Homo sapiens: one gene and its partners. The protein of the gene in region 5 purifies or fractionates together with the protein of the main gene of each other region. This does not show direct contact. Each region holds a gene or a part of one and is shown on either strand. Other genes may lie near its edges. The genes, in order: COPB2, PJA2, KIF5C, EMC2, XPR1, TRPM4 and METAP1D.

The links.
Region 1: the proteins of XPR1 (region 5) and COPB2 purify together in Homo sapiens (affinity purification with mass spectrometry; one large-scale study listed by BioGRID and IntAct). This does not show direct contact.
Region 2: the proteins of XPR1 (region 5) and PJA2 purify together in Homo sapiens (affinity purification with mass spectrometry; one large-scale study listed by BioGRID and IntAct). This does not show direct contact.
Region 3: the proteins of XPR1 (region 5) and KIF5C purify together in Homo sapiens (affinity purification with mass spectrometry; one large-scale study listed by BioGRID and IntAct). This does not show direct contact.
Region 4: the proteins of XPR1 (region 5) and EMC2 purify together in Homo sapiens (affinity purification with mass spectrometry; one large-scale study listed by BioGRID and IntAct). This does not show direct contact.
Region 6: the proteins of XPR1 (region 5) and TRPM4 purify together in Homo sapiens (affinity purification with mass spectrometry; one large-scale study listed by BioGRID and IntAct). This does not show direct contact.
Region 7: the proteins of XPR1 (region 5) and METAP1D purify together in Homo sapiens (affinity purification with mass spectrometry; one large-scale study listed by BioGRID and IntAct). This does not show direct contact.

The regions. Positions count from the first base shown.
Region 1 is NC_000003.12:139,369,148-139,372,647, forward strand, and holds part of COPB2 (coatomer subunit beta'), read right to left. Parts: intron 2,687-3,500; coding exon 2,576-2,686; intron 398-2,575; coding exon 309-397; intron 221-308; coding exon 114-220; intron 1-113. UniProt on the Homo sapiens protein: The coatomer is a cytosolic protein complex that binds to dilysine motifs and reversibly associates with Golgi non-clathrin-coated vesicles, which further mediate biosynthetic protein transport from the ER, via the Golgi up to the trans Golgi network.
Region 2 is NC_000005.10:109,334,222-109,336,974, forward strand, and holds the end of PJA2 (E3 ubiquitin-protein ligase Praja-2), read right to left. Parts: 3' UTR 501-2,753; downstream 1-500.
Region 3 is NC_000002.12:148,878,227-148,881,726, reverse strand, and holds part of KIF5C (kinesin heavy chain), read right to left. Parts: intron 1-3,500. UniProt on the Homo sapiens protein: Microtubule-associated force-producing protein that may play a role in organelle transport. Has ATPase activity. Involved in synaptic transmission. Mediates dendritic trafficking of mRNAs.
Region 4 is NC_000008.11:108,446,624-108,450,123, reverse strand, and holds part of EMC2 (ER membrane protein complex subunit 2), read right to left. Parts: intron 302-3,500; coding exon 188-301; intron 1-187. UniProt on the Homo sapiens protein: Part of the endoplasmic reticulum membrane protein complex (EMC) that enables the energy-independent insertion into endoplasmic reticulum membranes of newly synthesized membrane proteins.
Region 5 is NC_000001.11:180,827,522-180,831,021, reverse strand, and holds part of XPR1 (solute carrier family 53 member 1), read right to left. Parts: intron 1-3,500. UniProt on the Homo sapiens protein: Inorganic ion transporter that mediates phosphate ion export across plasma membrane.
Region 6 is NC_000019.10:49,171,292-49,174,791, reverse strand, and holds part of TRPM4 (transient receptor potential cation channel subfamily M member 4), read right to left. Parts: intron 3,436-3,500; coding exon 3,374-3,435; intron 3,215-3,373; coding exon 3,023-3,214; intron 2,784-3,022; coding exon 2,684-2,783; intron 1-2,683. UniProt on the Homo sapiens protein: Calcium-activated selective cation channel that mediates membrane depolarization. While it is activated by increase in intracellular Ca(2+), it is impermeable to it.
Region 7 is NC_000002.12:172,006,453-172,009,952, reverse strand, and holds part of METAP1D (methionine aminopeptidase 1D, mitochondrial isoform 1 precursor), read right to left. Parts: intron 1-3,500. UniProt on the Homo sapiens protein: Removes the N-terminal methionine from nascent proteins. The N-terminal methionine is often cleaved when the second residue in the primary sequence is small and uncharged (Met-Ala-, Cys, Gly, Pro, Ser, Thr, or Val).

The DNA of each region.
Region 1 (3,500 bases), on a different chromosome or scaffold from region 5:
TTTTGATAATCGAAGAGGGAGAGCAGGGTACAAAAGACACTTCTTGGCCTTAGGGACCCAGAACTCATCACAAAAATAAATATTCCAAAAACAACAATGGAGGGGAAACTCACATGTTTGGGCTGAATTTCAATTCTTCGTATGAGTTCTGTATTGTCCCAGTCATAGAAGGCTAAGCCATTTACAGATCTGACTCCCAATAAGAAGCCGCCGTAGATACCTAAAGGGAACATAAAAAGAGTTTTGCTTAGGCATTTTTGAGCCATTACAAAGAATTTAAAAATGTATCATATGTAGATCACACTCACTTTCTGCTCCAAAATCTGGTTTAAATGATTTTTTTTCCTTAAAGTTCTTAAATATCTTTACAATGCTGTTGCTCTCTCTTATTGCATACCTGGGAGAAAAAAGGGAAGGCAAACATAACATGTTATATACTAAATCATAGTTCTACCAAATGTTGGAAATATCTTCAAATATTTTTCAGTAATTATGCAAAAATATAAAATAAATATTTGAAGATTATCTGATGTACTGTTTTCCTAAGAGATCAGAGAACTCCTTACAGTTGGACAAATGATGAAAGGGTTTTATACTGTGTATGACATGAATTACTAGGGCTTACAAACCACTTTAGAAACTGAAAATGACCCAAATGTCCACAATAGGTGAATGATTAAACAAATTATCGTATATTCATATAATGGAATGCTACTCTGCAAATAAAGAAACCAATTACTGATCCAGGCAAGAATATGGATGAATCTCAAAAACATTATACTGAACAAAAGATGCTGGACTCAAGAGTACATACTGTATGATTCCATTTATATGAAACTCCAAAGACAACTCTAATCTATATAGTGACAAAAGGCACTCATCAGTGTTTGCCTGGGACTGGGGAATGGGTGGATGGGGGGTATGGACAGACTGTTAATGGAGACAAGGGGATTTTGCGGGGATGATAGAAATGTTCTATAATTTGATTGTGTTAGTAGTTACGGATTACATACATTTGCCCAAATCTACTGACATGAACAGTAGTCCTCCCTTATCCATGGGGGATACGTTCTAAGCCCCAATGGATGCCTGAAACCTCAGATAGTACTGAACCCTATATACACTATGTTTTTTCCTATAATGTAAGAGGTGGGCAGCATATACAATGTGGATATGCTAGACAAAGCGATGATTCACGTCCCAGGTAGGATGGCTCAAGATTTCACCATGCAACTCAGAACACTGGGCAATTTAAAACTTATGAGTTGTTTATTTCTGGACTTTTCCACTTAATATTTTTGGAACACAGTTGACTGTGGGTAACTAAAACTGCAGGAAGGGAAACCACAGATCGGGGGATCGCTGTACAATTAAGTGGTACATTCTGTCTTCTGTAAATTATACCTCAATAAGGGCGATTTAAATAATAAAAACTGTGACAAATGGTTCATTAATCAGCCATCATCAGCAACAACTGCTTATATTCAGGCCTCTGCCTTGAAAAAAGGAGCTGTGGCTATCACTGGATATTTAAGATTGTCTGAGGAAGTGATGTGATGAGGGCTTTGCTCAGGACAGGAAAGATGCTGAGCAAGGTCTTGGCTGGATAGAGCTGAAAAAAAGGACTATCAAAATAGAGGAAGAGGTGTGCTGAGAGAAGGCAATTCATCAACTATAATTTTGCTTAAGATAACACATTACCTTTGAATACATAGAACTGTATGTATATGTGTATTTAGGAAATTTATGAAAATATCAGAACAATTCCATACCTCTCAATAAATCTTACTGTTGTAACATTTTAAAAAATGTATCTTATTACACAACGCTGAGGCTTAAGTTACCCCACTGTTGGGGGCAAGATGCAACATAAAATGTGGGGCAAACAAAACTAAAAAAACTGTGAAAATGTAATTCAGTTGTGTGGTCTGAAAACACTAAACCCCTAATGTTTATTACGTGCATTAAACAGGAATCAAAAAGGAACCAGAGCCAATGACTAGTAAAAAAGTCAGAGTTAAATGATCTTTCCTGCTTTTAATGAGAACATTTTATGAACATTCTGAATTCAGACAGAAATTTGTTAAGAATGGGCAGTGGGTACTATCACAGAAAATAAGTTTTAAAAAAGATTTAATAAATTTCTCATCAAAATGATCAAACCACAACATCACTCCCAAGTAGCTCATAAAGGGGCAGTAGCACCTCAGGACACTACATCACAGGGAGGGCATGCCAAGGCCTGCCAAGGCAGACATGAGGGTCTACTGTGCCTTAAGCCCATAAAGCACCAGGTCCTGCCATGGGCTCCATCAAAGAAATGGGTGCTGGGTCCCCAGTTAAATGGAATTATTGTATCAGCTTGAGTGAGCCAGCCTAACGCAGAACAAAGAAAGCACTAAGACGGCTCATGCTATACACTCGCCTCTGACTCTCATCTTCCAATGGACAGCTCTGGTGAGAACTGTTTTTTAACACGGAGAATCACAGCCCACATCAAGCCTTGAGAGTCTTCAAGCAGCACACAACACATCTGCAATCAGGGCATGCTGGCTATCATACAATCAAAACTTACTCTGAAGAATCGTGGGCCCATGCAAACTCCTGAGCAGATCCAAAGCTCTTGTTTCTCAATGCCATTGCTGTGTAGATGATATACTCCCCATCACCACACACCACCACAAACCTAGAAATCACAGAAGCCAGGGAGGGAAGTACAGAGGACCAAAGACATGTAGAAGTTAAGGAACAATAATTCATGTTATGGTAAAAGAATTCTAATAACAAATGTTATTTAGTTCATTATTACAATTTAACATCTTTTAAAAGTTATACATTTCTTTGAATACAAAGTTACAAAAAAAATTCTAGCCAACAAATTGAAAAGGAAATTATGAATATGGCATTACTGCTGAAATGTTATTGGAATGGTCTTCTCATAAATAAAGGCAACTGGAGGCAGGAAGGTGAGAATGGCTGGAAATGCAAAGGAGGAGGATTCCAATTATTCAACCAGTATTTGTTGAGCACCAAGATGCCTAGAACTTTGCTCATGACATTTATACCACAGGAAGGCACTATATTATTACAAAGACTATCTTCATTTTAAAGCTGATCATTCAAATGAATAAAAATATCTCACTCCAGGTTTTAAAGACTTAAATTCAGCAAAATACAGAGGATATTTTAACATTTAAATAATGAGAAAACAGAATGCTGCAGAGTCAACGAAAATTTTCCCAATGGACATAAGACAACTATCTTTAAAGTTGTTTATAACACTGTAAAGGCTGGTATCAAAAGACTGCCAAAGGCAAAACTTACAGCCAAGAATGTTTTACGATATTAAGGGAAATATGCATAATGCATTCTTAACCTTTATAAGACAATTATATTACAAATAATTATGGATACCATTTACTGAACTAGGCGGCATACTTGGTTTATATCTTTTGTCTTTTTCAATACTCAGCACAGCATTATAAGATGCCCAGACCTGC
Region 2 (2,753 bases), on a different chromosome or scaffold from region 5:
TGAATAGCTGGGATTATAGGTGCACACCACCATGCCTGGCTAGTCTTTGTCTAATTGAATTGCGTAATTTATCAGCACCCAATTGACCCTTCTGAAATGACTGAGTTCTCTGAACTGTTTGAGAACCACAAGGAATCTTGCTAAACAGTTAGATTTAATAATATTTCCATGCCTGATTTGGAGAAAACCACTGATGTGAGGTGGGCTCCCTTCCTTATTAAGGGTTTCTGCAGTCCGGAGTCAGTGTGGAAATCAGGTTCTGCTGAAACCTACGGGATAGCTAAGGATGTCAGGGAGGAGAGGGCAAGGACTCAGAGACCCTCCAGCAGTAGGAAGTCCATCAACTACTTCTGTCTGGCTCTTTCTAGGGCTTTCTTAGATTATAGTTCAAGGACTTCTAACATCACATGCTCAGTAGTGTTATCTGTCATTAACTCTAAATCCTTCAGGGGTTACATTATAGAAGTGATACAATTACACAATTAAATATTAGAAATGACCACCGAGTATATTCTGTTTATTGTTTATGATTTACACAGAAAATGATGGGCTGGGGTTATAGAACAATAAACCAACCATTACATTTAGACCTGGGCTTTTGAAAAACTTGCATTCCATTTTAACAATTCGTATGTATCTAACAAATACATAAATCCAGATCACAAATAATCTTAAGAGTTAAACAATTAAGAAACACAAAGAATACCACATAGATCTACCTTTAAATATCAGCATTCATATTATAAGAAATAAGAAAATGTTAAAAAAATAAAATTAGGTTAAGTCACAACATAAAATAGAGAAATAAGATAAATGCTATTTTATTAATATTCATACTTATTTCTAATTTACCTTCATATAGTCTTAACTTTTTCAAAAGGATCCAAGATATGATCAAATAATATTTTAGTATCTGAACTTGCCAGCCTTAGCTTATACCAGAGCTTGTTACCATGAAAATCCTAAAACCTCAATTTTCTTTTTCTTTTTTAAAATTTAAGCCAACTCTTATTCAACTTTTCTTCTTCACAGCAGCTGTTTATAGATAGTAGGGAGCCAAGAATGAAGGACAGTAACAGATGGAAAGCAAAAAGTACAACAGCTATCTTAAGTTCAGCTCTCAACATTGCTGGTTGAGTTTGGAACCAAAACCTCTTAACAACTGGCAGATAATAGCTAAATCTTAACAGACAAAGAAGAAATATTTTCTTTGGGACAGCTGCTATCTAGAAGAAAACCAAGGTCCCTTAATATAGTCTAAATATAATGTGTGGCTTATTATAGAGAAATCTTTAGCAACGTAAGTTTAACCAGTAAGTGTCACAACTGATCAACAGTACTTAAAAGGAAACAAACAAAAATCACACTAGCCACAAATTTCCACCATATACACATGAAATTAATTTTAATCTGTTTTGACTCCTTGACACTAACTGATCATTAATGAAATATGATATGGAAAGATCACAGAGTAGAAAACAAGCAAAGATTAGTTTATACAACAGTGACTATATACATCAGAGGGAAAACATGCTAGCTAATGCAACATTAAGGCCTGAATGTAAGCATTTCCCAAGTCACAGAAGCCCCAAAGAACTCCTAAATTACAAATTCATCACATTACATGCATGCAATGTTCACTTTTGTTTTACCCATAAAAGGATACACAGTATTTTGCTGTAAATACCAGACACATTTACAATATATGCAAAAATTAGAATGCAAGTGTTATGTTCCTTATATTTAAGCCTCATATGTGCCAACAGTGAAAATTCATTTATTTTTAAGAATGAAAAAAGGAGACGGGATATAAATACTCAGAGAAATACACGAATAAGATGTAACTCTGCATTTGGGAAGCCATATAAATATTCCTTTTATGTGCCCAAACTAAATTATCAATGTACCAGTTAGACGGACATACACTCACTATGTGCTTTACTATTTTACTTGCTCAAATGTTCTACAGTCATCATTCTCTAGTGTTAACATCAAATCACATTTGTAAGTGAACTATTATGTCCATGTTTGCACATACTCGTCCACTGTGTGTGATCACCTGAAGGAGACATTGTGCATCTTAGTTTGGGGTTATATAATTACAAAGATGACCCTGTGCAAGTTTTCAGACCTTCCAAAATACTGTAGAAGCAAAATTACCTTAAACTAACTATAAGCAATATTAAACAAATGTGCCATGAGTGTTCTGGGCCTTCAAGTATAATTTTAACCAAGGAGAAACAGGTTGGGTAAGAGGTTAGAAAGAGTTTCATAAGGCCATCTAATTCAGCTCATTGTACCAAGCCCTGAGCACACTAGATTCTTTGTATGCTTTACTAACCTTACGTTAAGCACATCCACTGGTTTCATTAAGGATTTTACTACCTAACTTTATTTCAGGGGGAGTTACGTCTACGATTTAAAACTTTTGTAATGTTCTGGCCAAAATTTTAGCCTTCATTTGGCATTCTGAAAAGTTCTAATTTTAAACAAAAATGGACTTTCTGAAAAATTTCTCAGCATATGAACCAAGAGGTTATGATATAGCAAAATCAAAGGGACTAGTGAAAAAGCATACTTTAGAATTTGTTTCATTTCCAATGAAACCAAATTTTACTACGGTTGTGAACACAGTCTTTACATTTGATGCAAACAGGACAGCTTAATTATAATCACTTAGTGGCAGTATTACAGACAAAGCCAATAACGTATGCCACACAGATGATTATTTATTCTGGAGAGAGTCAACTGAT
Region 3 (3,500 bases), on a different chromosome or scaffold from region 5:
TGATTTAGAGGTAAGGACTAAAGGGAAATCAAAGGTAGGGGGAGGTTTCCAACTGTGAATGGGAAGAAGAGCTGAGAATGGAAAACATCATTAAATAGGGGAGTCGGGCCAGACAAGCACAGGTGAGGCAGAGGGAAGTCTCCAGTGATACCCAAGTTATTTACAGAAATGCAGAAATTGGCATTTATGGAGTCGTGATTTCAGGCAGGGAAAGGGGGAAAAAAAACCTTCAGTCAAGATACATTTACTAAGCAATTACACAACTACAGTAAAGGAGACAAAAATTTAATTAAAAAAAGAAAAAGAAAAAGCTACATGGGAAGATATACACACGCACACGCACACACAAACATGCATGATCACAAAGGAACAGCTAACGTAGTCTAGAGCTAAATGAAATATGAGTTTTGCCTTCAAGGATAGTTAGAAATACCAGAAATAGATGAAAACAGTGGGTATTCCAACCAGGAGAATGGGGTGAACAAATGCCTAAGAAATGGTAATGCAAGAAGGGTTTTCAGGGGATAGCCAGAAGGGGCACTAATTTGTGGGGCCAAAGCTAATGTTGACATGAGGAAGGTCACCAAGGGAACAGGAGACATAGGAGGTAATCAGCGCCTATTGAGCATTTTCTCTGTGCCAGACACTCTCTCACCACTTCATTTCATTTCATCCAAATGACCCTGTGAGGTAAGTAATTATTATCTGCACTTTCAATACAAGAAAACTCATGCCCAGGAAAGCTCAGCAACTTGAAAAAAAAAAAAAAAAACTAGGTTTTTTTTTAGCTAGTGAATCTACACTCGGTTTTGTCTCACCCTTCCTGCTACCTCTACCCACCCCATTCACTGACTGTGTGCCTACTGTGAATAGTGAGTGGCCTCAGTGACACACGCCAGATTACAGCTCTCTATGATGTTCCCTCAGTCCATGATTTCACAGGGTACATGTGAAGGAAACCACTAACCCATTTCAGGTGATATAAACATCTCTGAATTTAGGGCACAGAGGAATGAAGAACTGATACATCCTGACACTACTAGACTAGAATGCACTTAGACAAAGTGACTAAATAAACTTACTTTGGTTTAAAATGTTACTGCTTTTAGATGGAAATGCAAATTGGTACAACCACTTTAGAAAACAGTTTGGCAGTTTCTTACAGAGTTAACCGTATGGTTACTTTACAACCCAGCAATCCCATTCCTGGATATTTACCCAAGAGAAATAAAAATGTATACTCACACAGAACCTATATGCAAAGGTTTATAGCAGCTTTATTCATAATCATACCAAACTGGAAACAAGCCGAGCATGGTGGCTCATGCCTATAATCCCAGCACTTTGGGAGGCCAAGGCAGGTGGATCACCTGAAGTCAGGAGTTCAAGACCAGCCTGGCCAACATGGTGAAACCCCATCTCTACTAAAAATACAAAAATTAGCTGAATGTGGTGGCACACGCCTGTAGTCCCAGCTACCTGGGAGGCTGAGGCAGGAGAATTGCTTGAACCCAGGAGGCAGAGGTTGCGATAAGCCAGGGTCACACCACTGCACTCCAGCCTGGGTGACAGAGCAAGACTCAGTCTCAAAGAAAAAAAAAAAAGTGGTATTACTGCGTGTAAATTTGAAAAAATTGTTTTAATGTTATTGCTTTGGAAGACCATTACTGTGGAAAGAAGAAAAGTTTTAAGGTGTAGCTGTATTTCTTCACTTAATCTCTAAAATCCTAACTCAGGCGCGGATTTGGTCTCCAGGCCCCTTCCCCATCCATCTACTGCCAAGAAATAATCTAAGCTTCTGAAGACTGGGGCCACTTTCCAGCTTAGGGTTTGTGGCTGATGTTTTGCTCTGGCTCTTAGGCCCTCAGGAGGAAGCACTCATCTTTAACAAGACCTGCTTTCTCAGGACTGCAAACAAGAGAAAAGCCCAATAAGAGGAAAGTGAAGTGTGAAAATCCATTTCAAAGAACTTTACTGAGAACTCACCATGTCAGAGAGCTTCCATTAATACAGTTGCTTCAAAACCAATAGGCAGAACCCAAAGTAATGGATGACTCACCAGGACTTTTAGCAGCTAATGGAGTACTCTGAGAAATGCTGTAAATCCAATATTTTTGCTGAAAAATTAATGTGTTATGGGAGGGAGCCTCTTTTCTAATCACTTACCCACCCCCACCCTCTACTTCTAGTTCACCATCAGCATCTTTAGCTCTTCTAATTTTTGCCAAAGCTGAATGCAGTTCTTTCCCAATTTTCTTATATCATTTTAAGTATTATATATGCTATCTTACCAGGCCCACTCAGAGAAACAGCACTTATCTTTAAAATTATTTTTTAACTACTCCCCACAGCCTACGGCCAATAAAAACTCTGTAAACTATGTTAAATATACCAAAGTAAAGTTTCCAGAATTCACAGAGAGATCGATAAATATTTACTAAGTGCCTTCTACAGACAAAGCCCTGGGAAGTATAAAGGAGCAAAACATGCACAGTTCTTGTCTCTAAACATGGCTTACAATGTCATTAGGCATATGACCAAAGCTAATAATAATCCAAGGCAAAAAACTTGGGAGATCATATACAAAACAAATGCTATAGGAGTTCAAAGTGGGGAAAGACTGTGGCTGGTGTGGTCAGAGAAAGACAGCTTTGCACAAAGCTGAAAAACTGCAGGAGTGATGGAGAACATTTCTCCCAAACAGGACATTTTCATAAAAGAGAAATCTAGAAACTCCACCTGTAAAATCTCTTTCTTGGAATATATCTCCATAACAAACAGAACTTTAAGGGAAAAAATGACCCCAGTTTCAAAAACACAAAGAATTTCTGGGATTCTGAATTTGGACTAACAGATAACTCCACCAAAATTCATTCTTTACTTGTCTCTGTTTGAAGGTGACATATTTCTGGATGATCTGGGCTTCTTTGGTCATCCACAGTCTGTGCCCCTAGAACTAAGGAAGGTTGTGTACATCTCAGACAGTTTTCACTTGCAACTGAGCCATGTCAGCCGGCTCCAACTGAATTGACTTGGGACCATTCTACTCATTGCATATGGCATGATACAGACTGCCAGAACCCTCATTTCCTTTAGTGCCACATTATCAATTAGGAATGGGAAGGATCCTGGCACATGCCAACCCAACTCCCAAACCCTTCAGTATCTGGCAGTCTTCTATTCTGTACATGCACTCACCAAAATATACATAAACGAATGTTCATAGCAGCACTAGCCATATTAGCCCCAAACCGGAAACTATCCAAATATCCATCAACAGTCAGTAGACAAATTGTAGTATATTCATATCATGGAATACTACAAAACAATGAGGATGAATTTGACAAGCATAACACTTAATCCCAAGAAACCACACACAAAAGAGAACATACTCTATGGTTTTATGTAATATAAAGTTAAAAAGAAACAAGCAAAACTAATAGCATCAGAAGTGAGAATCATGGTTACCCTGAAGCAGGGGGATTTAGGGACTGGAAGGG
Region 4 (3,500 bases), on a different chromosome or scaffold from region 5:
AGCTTACTACTACCAAGCAATTATAAATCCTTCTCAAAATAAACTATCATTAAAATTCTTGGGACAAAAAGTCACAAAGAAAATTAATATGACAAGTAGAAAAATCATGAATGAAAGAACAGTTAAAAAAAAAAAAAGGCCCATGAATGAGGCATGTACTGAGCCTGAATGTAATAAAAGAACTTACTATCATCTCCCAGCTTAGAAGCATATTCATTAATTAATTCTTCTCCAACTTCCACAATTTGCTCACTATTTCTTGAGTTTTCTTCTCTCCATTTTCTCATTTTATCTCTCATTTCTGAAAAAAATAACATGACATTTAAGTGTATATGTACCCAGACACACACATACACATCCGATAGATGTCAAAAACCTGACAAGACAAAATCAGCTTTTTAGGTAAGGAAAATAAACTCACAATCATGTAGAAGTCTGTGGTATCTCAAATTTGATAAAGTAGAAAATTAATTGAACAAGGGCAACAGATCCTTTAGAAGACTGAAACAGCATTACAACTGGTATTATGACTATCTTTAGAAGTGATGAATGGGCCAGGCACGGTGGCTTACATCAGTAATGCCAGGACTTTGGGAGCCCAAGGTAGGACAATCACTTGATCCAGGAGTTCAAGACCAGCCTGGCCAACGTGGCGAAACCTTGTCTCTACTAAATATACAAAAATTAGCCAACTATGGTGGCACACACCTGTAATCCCAGCTACTCAGGAGGCTGAGGCAGGAGAATCGCTTGAACCCAGGAGGCAGAGATTGCGTGAGCCGAGATCGTGCCACTGCACTCCAGCTTGAGTGACAAAGCAAGACTTTGTCTCAAAAAAAAAAAAAAAAGGCAGCATGGTGGCACCCGCCTGTGGTCCCAGCTACTCAGGAGACTGACGTGAGAGGATCACTTGAGCCTGGAGGTTGATGCTGCAGTGACCTGTGATTGCACCACTGCACTCCAGTCTGAGCAACAGAGCAAGACCCCTGTCTCTTAAAGGTTGAAAAAGGAGTTCAACAGGCATATAACAAAGTAAGTTATCCTATACAGAAAGAACTACTGGTAGCTGGGAATTAAATAAACACACTAGGATCAGGAAATGAGTGTATAAGAAGTAAGAAGAGTGAGTTTCTTGGAAGACTTTTATTTCATACTAGAGAACTTTAAAGTTTGTTTTTAAAGGTACAGAAGAACAACTTAAAAATGCTGAGCAAAAGAAAAGCAACACAATCATGGCTGTCTGACAGGAAAATCATTCTGGTGCAAAAAAAAAGAAACCACTAGAATTTTAAATTTTATATGTCAATTTTAAAAATAAATAAATTTGAAACCAAAACAAAAAGCCCCAGAAGATAAACTGGAAAGGAGTAAACAGTTCAAAGAAAAGAAACTGGTTGTATTAGTCCGTTTTCCCACTGCTGATAAAGACGTACCCGAGACTGGGCAATTTACAAAAGAAAGAGGTTTAACTGGACTTGCAGTTCCACGTGGCTGGGGAGGCCTCACAATGATGGCAGAAGACAAGAAGGAAAAAGTCATATCCTACGTGGATGGCAGCAGGCAAAGAAAGAGAGCTTGTGTAGAGAAACTCCTGTTTCTAAAACCATGAGATCTTGTGAGACCCATTCACTATAATGAGAACAGCATGGGAAAGACCTGTCCCCATGATTCAATCATCTCACAGTGGGTCTCCTCCTCAACACATGGGAATTATGGGTGCTACAAGATGAGATTTGGGTGGGGACACAGAGCCAAACCATATCACCAGTCATAGAGGACGTATAGTATACTGGAAAGAACATGGACTTGATACACTTGGTTTGAATCTAAACTCCATCTTTTACATGACCTTACATAACTTACCGAATCTGTACTTAGTTTCCAATACCAATGAATAGAGATAATATTACCTTTAGCTCAGGGATGAGCAGTTAAGATTACATAAAATATATATAAAGTTGCTTGGTTCGTACAATAGTTTGGATATTTTTGTTTTTAAGTTGATTTTGATTACCCTTAGATAAGGGTATACACTTACCAGTTCTTCACAGGCACCACTATTGTCTTTCACCCAACTACATGTATTTTCATCTGCTTGGCCCTTGAGTTTAGGACACCAAACACTAGAAAATTCGTGTAAAGCATTTTATAAAATGTGAAGCCCTACAAAAATTCTAGTTACTTTTATTTTTTAAAAAAATCTGGTAACTGTTTCAGCCTCTCACAAGAAATAAAGGCTCTTCCCTCACTCTTTCCTCAAAGGTGGCTTAAAACTTTCATTTTACCCTTTCACCTTCCTGCAAAAAGCTCGCTCCTCAAAGCCAAGGTCATTTTATTACATACTATGTAAGTAAGCTTCTCACTGCTTGCTTGTACATTTTATTAACTACTGTGCAATCCTGTGAGATGAGCTAAAGGTCAAAGGTTAAGAGAGTCGCTATGATTGTTCTGTTTATTCCTTCCATGACAACTTGCATGAGATGTCACTGCAGTGAGGTGGCCTCTGAAAGATGGAAAAATATGCCTGCTACTTAATTATGATTTCTTTAGTCCAAAACTACTTCCTCCAATCCTGTATCTTTTCCACTTCATTTTTTTATATATTCGGAAATACCACTTACAGATTCATTTACATAAACCAGCATATTCTTTTAAAAGGTTGATAATTACAGGATAATAAATTTTAAATTATTCATGGTCCCATAAAAGTATCTAGTCAGATTGGCTGCAGGCTGTTGGGAACAGCTATTCTAAAAGAAAAGGCAACCTGATTTGAAAAAGGAAAGGGTTAATTTATTTTAATGCACACAGAGCTCCAGAAGACGTATTTTTCAAACTGTGTATTACAATCCATTAATAGGGTATAAAATCGGTTCAGTGGATTTCTTCCAGCATCTGTTGGGGGTGGGGGGGCAGTGGGGGAGAATGAAACAAAATGAACAGAATGGAAGCAATACTCATTAGAATCCTTTGTAAATGCAACTTTGGTTTCAGTTTATACATACACTCAAAGATTCATGTATAGGTATACTTAATTGAGTATGAGTTAATTTGTAAAAGGTGTTTCTTATTGTGAAAAAACACTCATAGGAAAGAGAACTTTTTTTAAAGCATAACTTCTAAGAACGGCAGTCTGACACACAGTCACATATTAAAATATAATAGCTGAACACAAAACAAGAAACACTGTGTATGAAAATATAACTTACAAAACAAGCAACATTTTACCTATAAACACCTTAAGCTATACACCTTACATAGCTGACCCTGCCACACTCTTGAGTGCTGCTGTAATAAATACATTTGTAGCACTATTAACCACATACTACTTTTAGAAATGCCTTAAATACATTTATCTAAAAAAATTATTTGTAAAAATAAAACCATCTTGAAGAAAACATGTTTTCACCTTTGATAGCTCATTACCTCAAAATCACAGCATCCGAAAATCAAGTCATCTTCATTTCCTAAAAATATGGCCTCCCTTCCCAATGTTCACA
Region 5 (3,500 bases):
ATGTATTAAATGTATTGGGCAGTAACTCATGCAGTGTATTTTCCTCAAGGCTTTATGCAAGCATTAACTCATCTTCATAACAATTCCATGAGCTAGGAACTATTCATATCCCCATTTTACAGAAGACCGACACAGACTCTTCCTAACATATTCTGTGGAAGCCTGTTTATCACTACAAAGGGAAATCTTGGCATTGCAGAGAAGGGAAGTAGGTACCAATGCAATTACCAGAAATAGGCTCAAATTGTGCAGATTGTCTTGATAAGCGCTGTGTGAAGTGAAGATGGGATGAAGGAAGCCTTAATCCTCATCCTAAAGGACCCCTTTCTATCTTATACAGTAGGAAATGTGACTCCTGAAAGAAGAAATTCTGAGTAAGTAGAAGTTTTGAGAAAATGAATCTAATCTCTAGCTCTGATTATCTAGTTATATTCATTTCATAGACATATTCTACTTGGGAATCTGTAACTCTCTTCTCAGACTTGGCTGGATCTGTCTTCTGTTTCTCTAAATATTTATTTTTATTATGTCAGGGAGATAAATGGTCACATTATGACTCAATCCTGGATGTCAACTACCTATGACGGGTACTTTCTTGGAGCTTTGGAAGCTAGACCAGGTGTCTGTGGGACATCATACAGGCTTTGAGACATTATTTTCTGGTGCTGATATACTTTCATTCCATGGCTCAGTCTCTTAACCACTCTCATAATCTTTCCATGAGTCCAACAAACCAGAGAGACAATCTATACCATTTGCAACCATAAGCGCCCGATAAAGCAAACTTTTTGTGAGGAAGAGGGGGACTGTAGGATGGTAGTCATCTATGCACGAAGAAGCTCTGGCACCAGTTTCTGTAATATTTTAAGAAACTCTAGTGTGCAGAATGGACTTAAAGGATTCAAAGTGACAGAAATATAGAATAATTTAGGATATAACACCAAAAGATCAGGAAGTCTAAATCCATCTCTAATCATGAACTATTATGAAACTGGTAGCCTAGGACAAATTTCTTTATAACTGACATGAGACAGACTATCATTACTCTCATACTCTGCCAACCCCATCCTCAAAACCTGGCTAATTCAGAAAATCTCCATAAGAGCAGAAGAGGGAGATAATGCATTAAATAAGGAAAAAAGGGATGGTGGGATGGGACTGAAAAAGGATAGGACTGACATGAAAATTTAAAAAAAAAACTGGGAAGAAGGGAAAATTTACAAAAAGAGAAAATGAAAAAAGGAAGAAAGAAGGGAGTAGTAAATGTTATATAATACAACCAATGAAGGGAAGAATATAATTACAGTCATTCATGTATTTAACAAAGACTTATCAAGTATTTATTAAATGTCAGGCACTGCGGCTTACAGGCCTTAATGATCCACAGTCTAGTTGGGCAAATAAATACATAAAGGTATAATTATAGCACCATATTATAGAGATACACACAAAATACCCTGGAAATACAGAGAAAAGAAGAAGTCACTCTGTCAGAGGCCGGGTGAGAGGGAGAGCATAAACATCATACTCAACTCACTGACATTTACACACAGTCAAATTCATTCTAGATTTATCTGATATCGCCTTCTGGGAGAGAATTCTGTAACTCACTCCTCCTTCTCTTCTTAATCTGGATAAGGCCTTTCAACTTCTCCACTTCTACCCTGTGATTTTGATTAAAGTGACAATTCCTAGAGTAACAGTATTATGAAAGCCAGAGACAATTCTGGATAGCTGATATTTTACCACCTACACAAAAAAGCCACTAAATTATTACAAAGAACATGTTAACATCCTCTTTTAAGTTAATACTGATAAATAGCTAAGAAGATGAAGTTTTAATTTCTACTTTTCATGGAGTGCAGTGGTACAATTTCAGCTCATTGCAACCTCAACCTGCTGGACTCAAGCGATCCTCCTCCCTCAGCCTCCCAAGTAACTGGGGCTACAGATGCGTGCCACCATGCCCCACTAATTTTTCATTTTTTGTAGAGAAAGGGTTTTGCCACGTTGCCCAGGCTGGTCTCGAACTCCTGGGCTTAAGCGATCCTCCCACCTCCGCCTCTCAAAGTGCTAGGATTACAGGCATGAGCTACTGTGCCTGGCCTCAAATTTGATTTTTATATTCTACTAGTTTGATCCACTAGATCAAAGTTAAACATCTAACATAAGTGACTAATAGGGCTAAGTGTTAAATGTTAGTGTTTAAGAGTACAGATTATAAACGACTGCCTGGGTTCATAACTCATCTTCATCACTTCACTGGCTATGTGACCTTAGGCAAGTTAATTAACTTCTCTGAATGTAGGTTTCTTCATTTATAAAATAGGGATTAATAGCAGCTCCAACTTGTGGGTTATTTTTAAAATTAAAATACATAAAGTAGTTACTAAATGACAACACCTCTCTATTCTTATAATAGAAATGTGTAAAATTTTTACTATAGAACTAAAGAGACTGTTGGTAAAAACTGATGTCTAAATTATGTAACAAAGGACTATAATTTAAAATTTTTAATTAGCTTACTTTTAATATAGTGAGTTAAAATTTATATTTTTGTTTAGAAAATCTGAGGCACTGTTTATGCTACCTAATTAGATTTCTGATTGAGGTAAATATAGATTTAAGGAGAGAAAGTATAACCTAATGGATGTAAATAATCTATACTAATTTGACATACAATATTCATATCAAAATAAATCAATTTCTTATAAATTTTTTTAGCTTTGTTTTTAGGAGCATAGCATATATCAATTCCATAGATTCCAATATAAATATGGATATAAATGGCACCCAGTGCCTACCATTATGACCTATGTGCTTTTCTCACTAAAAATTAAAGAAAAGGATGGGTGTGGTGGCTCACACTTGTAATCCCAGCACTTTGGGAGGCAAGGCAGGCAGATGACTTGAGCCCAGGAATTCGAGACCAGCTGGGCAACATGGCAAAACCCCATCTCTACCAAAAATACAAAAAATTGGCCAGGCACGTTGGCACACACCTGTGGTCCTAACTACTGGAGAGGTTGAGGTGGGAGGATCACTTGAACCTGGGAGGTGGAGGTTGCAGTGAGCTGAGATCACGCCACTGCACTTCAGCCTGGGCAATAGAGCCAGACCCTGTCTCAAAAAAAAAAAAAATTAAAGAAAAAAAGAAAGAAATGTACTTTTACTTTAGGATGAAGCTTTTAAAAAGCGGTATCAGAAAAACATAACTAGAGTGAACACATTCTTGTTAATTCACTAGGAATCAGTCTAAGGGTAAGTTTTCCCAGTGAGATTTAAATTAAAATAAGTCAGCAGGTCAATTAATACTAAAATTATCTACAAATGATAACACTGTTCTGTTTATAACAGTTACTACAAAAACAACAAACCACAAATATAGAAGGAAATTATTCCTTCTATATTTCAGTGTATCTGATAGTACATTTTATTATTCTATTACTGCTTATACCATTGTCAACCTATTCCATCAACAAGTCCTCATTTATTAGCAA
Region 6 (3,500 bases), on a different chromosome or scaffold from region 5:
GGTCCAGTTTATTTGGTTTATTTATTTAGGTTTTTTTTTTTTTTTTTTGAGACAGAGTCTTGCCCTATCACCCAGGCTGGAGTGCAGTGGCACAATCTGCCTCCTAGGTTCGAGCGATTCCCCTGCCTCAGCCACCCAAGTAGCTGGGATTACAGGTATGCGCCACCCTCCCCAACTTATTATTTGTATTTTTTATAGAGGTGGCATTTCACCATGCTGCCCAGGCTGGTCTCAAACTCCTGGGCTCAAGCGATCTTCCCTCCTCAGCCTCCCAAAGTGCTGAAATTACACGTGTGAGCCACTGTGCCTGGCCAAGGTCCGGTTTAAATGCCAACTTCTCTGGCCAGGTGCAGTGGCTCACACCTGTAATCCCAGCACTTTGGGAGGCCGAGGTGGATGGATCATGAGGTCAGGAGTTCGAGGCCAGCCTGACCAACATGGTGAAACACCGTCTCTACTAAAAATACAAAAATCAGCCGGGCATGATGGCACGTGCCTGTAATCCCGGCTACTCAGGAGGGTGAGGCAGGAGAATCGCTTGAACCCGGGAGGCGGAGGTTGCAGTGAGCCAAGCTCGCACCACTGCACTCCAGCCTGGGCGACAGAGCAAGACTCTGTCTCAAAATACACACACACACACACACACAACTTTTCCTTGAAGTTTTCCTTCTAACGACAGTGATTCTTGCCTGTGCTTCTGTCTTAAATTTTACCTAAGGTTGTATCCAAACAATCCTAGTGGGATCTGGGGTCTTTGAGAGCAGGAAATGGGTTGGCTTTAGTCTCTGGAGCCTAGGATTGTATTTGTTGACTAAATAAAGGAGGCTGGCATGGTGGCTCATGCCTGTAATCCCAGCACTTTGGGAGACTGAGGCAGGAGGATCAGTTGAGGCCAGGAGTTCATGACCAGCATGGGCAACAGAGCAAGACCTCGTCTGTACAAAAAAAAAATTTTTTTTTTGTTTAATTTACCAGGTGTAGTGGTGGGCGGGTATGTTCCCAGCTACTTGGAAGGCTGGGGTGGGAGGATCACTTGAGCCTGGGAGGTTGAGGCTGCACTGAGCCGTGATCACACCACTATACTCCAGCTTGGCCTACAGAGCAAGACCCTGTCTCAATAAGTGAATAAATAAATAAGACCCTCCCCAGCCTCTCCCAGGTGTGCATTATGCTCCCCCGCCTTGGTTTTCATCATTCCGTCCTCCAAGCTGCCATTTCTAGTGAAATATCTGGACTTCCTCACTGGGAGACAGTGCTTTGGTTCATGTCTAGCCAGAGTGCTTCATGTATATTGGAAGCATGTAGGGAAGGAAGAATGGGTGGGTGGATGGATAGATGGAAGAACAGTTGGATGGATGAATGAAAAGATGGATGGGTAGATGGGTAAATGGATGGAAGATGGGTGGATGGAGGAATGAGTGAATGGAATTGTCAGTGGATGTGTGGATGGACAGGTGAGAAGATGGATGGATGGAGGAATGAGCGGATGGAATTCTCAGGAATTGTCAGTGGATGTGTGGATGGACAGGTGAGAAGATGGATGGATGGAGGAATGAGTAGATGGAATTCTCAGGAATTTTCAGTGGATGTGCAGATGGACAGGTGAGAAGATGGATGGATAGAAGAATGAGCAGATGGCATTCTCAGGAATTGTCAGTGGATGCATGGATGGACAGGTGAGAAGATGGATGGATGGAAGAATAAGTGAATGGAATTGTCAGTGGATGTGTGGATGGACAGGTGAGAAGATGGATGGATGGAAGAATGAGTGAATGGAATTTTCAGTGGATGTGTGGATGGACAGGTGAGAAGATGGATGGATGGAACAATAAGTGGATGGAATTGTCAGTGGATGTGTGGATGGACAGGTGAGAAGACGGATGGAGGAATGAGCGGATGGAATTCTCAGGAATTGTCAGTGGATGTGTGGATGGACAGGTGAGAAGACGGATGGAGGAATGAGCGGATGGCATTCTCAGGAATTGTCAGTGGATGTGTGGATGGACAGGTGAGAAGATGGATGGATGGAAGAATGAGTGAATGGAATTGTCAGTGGATGTGTGGATGGACAGGTGAGAAGATGGATGGATGGAGGAATGAGTGGATGGAATTCTCAGGAATTTTCGGTGGATGTGTAGATGGACAGGTGAGAAGATGGATGGATGGAAGAATGAGCAGATGGCATTCTCAGGAATTGTCAGTGGATGCATGGATGGACAGGTGAGAAGATGGATGGATGGAAGAATGACTGAATGGAATTGTCAGTGGATGTGTGGATGGACAGGTGAGAAGACGGATGGAGGAATGAGCGGATGGAATTCTCAGGAATTGTCAGTGGATGTGTGGATGGACAGGTGAAAGGATGGATGGATGAAAGAATGAGGGATGACTGGAAGGATGGTAGGTAAAGAGATGGAAAGATCGATCTGTACATGTGGATGGATGGAAAGATGAAAGAATGGATGGATGGATCCAACAGAGGAAAGCAGATGCTGGAACATAATGAAAGCATCTGGGAAAACTGCCCAAATAGCACCATGCAAAGCCCCAAAGGGGAAAAATATTAAGAGGGGTAAAGGGGGCATGGGCCTTGGATTAGAGAGGGTGGATGAAGTGCCCAGGCCAGGAAAGGTGTCTAAGGTTGAACTGAGAGAGGGGGAAGACTGGAGGGTACAACTTTTACCCTTCACAAGGGCCTTCAAAACTATGGTCTCGAATTCCTCAGACCCATCCTCAGAAGAATAGACTGTCAGGAGCTCCTTCCGGGTCATAATCCTCTCCACCTGTGGAATAGCCAGTTCTGCATCCCTAGCCCGCCTCCATCCCCAACTCCTGTTGGGCCCTGTCCAAAGGGATGGAGGAGGCCATTCCCCTCCAGGACCTAATAGTCTATATGCCCAGCACCCTCTTCTCCCGGAACCTGGAAGTCCAGGCCCCCAGCCCCTCCTCCCTCAGACCCAGGAGCCCAAGTCCCCAGTTCCCTCCCATCTCAGGATCCAGAGTTGGGCCCCCAGTGTCATACCTGGGCCTGCAGGACCTCAAGGTCCCCTTTGGGAAAGAAACGCCTGATTCGATCTCGGGCTTCGCCTTGCCTGGCTCCCCCACTCCCTGGGGCCAGAGTGTCTTCCAGGGTCTCCGCCAGGCAGTCCGCAGCTCCCCCTGAGCCAGCCACGAGGAGACATGGGAGCTGAGCCTGGGTGGCGTTCTCTATTCGCTACAGGATAAAGGCATTCTTTATTCATCACGTCAGAAAAGGCAGGATATTCACCCTACCCGGAGTCAGACCCCCAGACCCTCCCTAAGACTCAGGACCCAGGAGTCCTGGCCCCCAACCCTCCTTCCCCCTTAGATCCGGGCATCCGGGCCCCTATACCGTCAACATCTTCTCATCACCATCAATCAGGAGGAGCAGGACAGGGATGTCAATTCCAGTCCCTGAGGCAAGAAGAGAAGGGGGCTTGATTACCTCCCATCAGCCTTTGCTGGAGATAGGAGAAAAC
Region 7 (3,500 bases), on a different chromosome or scaffold from region 5:
TCCTCCTTTTCTGCTTTGATGCCCCTTCCCTTCCTCGGGTCTCCTTTCCAGCAAACCACCAGGTCATGATGATTTCTCCTCTGTACCATTTCCTTGGCATCCATCTCTCCCTTTCCATCCCGCAGTCATTACCCTAGTTCAGGTCCTTCTGTTTCTGCCATTATCTTCTAACTGACTGCAATGGCTTTCCCTCTCCAATACATTCAGAACACACAAGCAGCAGATTAAAATGGAGACACCATCTCACTTTCTTGTTAATCCTCTCTTACCCTACAGTCTTCCACTCTAACATTAAGGTATAGTAAGAGTTTCTTAAATTCCATATATTAGAAATGCTACTTCTGTCAATAGCTCTTCTATCTTGAATCTTGCAATCCTGCCTCACAATTTCAATGCTCCATGACGTTTCATATACTTTCAGAAAATTAAAGAAGTAGATACACAATTAAAAATAAACCCATATAAAAAAAATTAACCCATATAATGACCCGAAACAAAAATTCATTGGTCACTTTTGGAGGATAAACCTGTTACGGTAGTCTCCTCTTAGATAAGAGTTTCAGTTATCCAAGGTCAATCAAGGTCTAAAAATATTAAATAGAAAATTCCAGGCCGGGCGCGGTGGCTCACGCCTGTAATCCCAGCACTTTGGGAGGCCGAAGTGGGCGGACCACGAGGTCAGGAAATCGAGACCATCCTGGCTAACACGGTGAAACCCCGTCGCTACTAAAAAATACAAAAAAAATTAGCCTGGCGCGGTGGTGGGCGCCCCTAGTCCCAGCTACTCGGGAGGCTGAGGCAGGAGAATGGCGGGAACCCGGGAGGTGGAGTTTGCAGTGAGCAGAGATCGCGCCACTGCACTCCAGCCTGAGAGACACGGCGAGACTCTGTCTCAAAAAAAAAAAAAGAAAGAAAATTCCAGAAATAAACAATTCACAAACACACCGTTCTGCACAGCGTGATGAAATCTCACACTGGCCCACTCCATTCTGCTCAGGACATGAATCCTCCCTTTTGTCAGCAGGTCCACACCCTGCACACTAGCAACCCATTAGTCATCCACATTCTCTGCTTCTGACATCATGTCATGGCTTAGTGATCCAGGATCACCTGAAGCAGATGATTCTCCTTCAGACATGTAGTCTAAAACTACATCACAATGCTTTCTCATTCACCTCACTTCATCACGTAAGCATTTTATCATCTCACATCATCATAAAAAAAAAGGGGTGAGCACAGTGAAAAAGATATTTTGAGAGAAAGGCCACATTCACCTAACTTTTATTACAGTATATTGTTAAAATTGTTCTATTTTTAGTGATTGTTGTTAATTTCATACTCTGCCTAATTTATAAATTAAACCTTACCACAGAAATGTGTGTATAGGAAAAAGCATAGTACAGCACCGTGCAGGGTTCAGTACCATCTGTGGCTTCAGACATCCACTGAGGGTCTGGGAACATACCCCCATTGGATAAGCGGGGGACTATGGTATTTTAAAAACTGATAAATAAGGAGAACAAACCATTTAACTTTCCTTGCTGGGACAGGGCCTGTCAGGGTAATGAAATACTTGATGAGAAAGTTTCTCTTTGTAGATGTTTTCTAGCTGATAAATAAAGAAGGAGTAATTAAAATATTGTCATTTGTAAACTCCTAATGAGCCAGGTCATGATTGCCAATGGCCACTAATGTCTCCAATGTCTCCAGGCCACAATGTCTCCAGCAACACCACTATGAAGTACTTGTACCAAAAAATGTCTAACTTAAATCAGGCCTTGGATCTAACTACCATTTTATAGAGGAACATCTTCAACAAGCCCTGTGGAATATAATACCATCAGCAAAATCCACAAAATGCAAAGCTCCACAGAACCAATAGGCTAACCAGTTGCTTCAACAAATAATTTTCAAAAAAAAAAAAAAAGGGAAAGTAAACTTATAGATTAAAAAAAATAATAATATCCGGCTAGGCGCGGTGGCTCATGCCTGTAATCCCAGCACTTTGGGAGGCTGAGGTGGATCACTTGAGATCAGGAGTTGGAGACCAGCCTGGCCAACATGGTGAAACCCCGTCTCTACTAAAAATACAAAAATTAGCCGGGTGTCGTGGCATGCGCCTGTAATCTCAGCTACACAGGAGGCTGAGGCAGGAGAACTGCTTGAACCCAGGAGAAGAAGGTTGCAGTGAGCTGAGAATGCGCCACTGCACTCCATCCTGGGCAACAGAGACTCTGTCTCAAAAAAAACAAAATTAATATCCTTTTCCATCCATTCCAGCATAACTGGTACTAGAATTCCCACCTGTCTTAACCAATTAGACAAAATATGTGAAGCAACTATATCTTGGCACTGGATATTAGGCAATGCAGGACCATGAACCTTAAAAGAAAACAATACAACACATGAGCCCACACTGGCCTCAGCCACCCCCTAGAACTAACAGCAAAACACAAATAGATCCATCCTAACAGAGAATAAAAACCAAGCCTGAAAGAATCAAACAGATTTAACATATTGCCTGGCAGTTGTTTAAAACATATGTTAAAGAAAAACAACATAATCTCCACCAAGATATTATCTGTCATGCCACTTATAAAATTAAATATTACATGATTAGCCAGACATGGTGGTGTGCGCCTATAGTCCCAGCTACTTGGAAGGCTGAGGCAGGAGGATTGCTTGAGCCCAGGAGTTTGAGGTTGCAGTGAGCTATGATTGTACCACTGCACTCCAGCCTGGGTGACAGAACAAGGCCCTTCTCTTAAAAAAAAAAAAAAAAAAAAATTACATGACATGGGAAGCAGCAGGAAAACGTAATGTACAATAAAAAAAAAAACAGCAGTCAACAAAACAGAAACAGACTCTGAGGAGACCCAATAATAAAATTAACAGATTTTTAAAAAGCTGTTATAAATATGTATGTTCAAGTACTTAAAGGAAAAGATGAACATAATGAGTGAACAGGTGGGAAATCTCAACAAGAAATGGAAATTATAATGCAAATTCTAGAACTGATATGTACAACGTAAGAAGAAAAAAATGGCTCCCTATCTTTTAGAGATACACGGTAAAAAATCTACAGATGAAATAATATATCTGGAATGTGCTTCAAAATAATCCACCTGTGGGGAGGCAAAGTAACTGGGAGTATAGATGTAACAATAGTGGCCATAGGTTGATGACTATTGTAACTAGATGATGGCTACGTGGGAGTTCATTGTACTATTCTCTCTACTTTTGCATTATGTTTAACTGTCTCCATGTTCAAAAGCTAAAAAAGAAAATTCAGTCTCCGTAAAAACAAGCTGTTTCAGCTTAAAACTAGATGTTGTTCAAATGAAGTTCTGCATACACATAGTACTTCTCCCATCTTTGCCAAGTTCCCTAAGATATATAGCATCCACACTGATTTTTATGGATTTCTAATGCTTGAGGAAAGCGGGTATTTCATAGAAACTATAAATATTGGCCAGGCGCAGTGGCTCACACCTGTAATC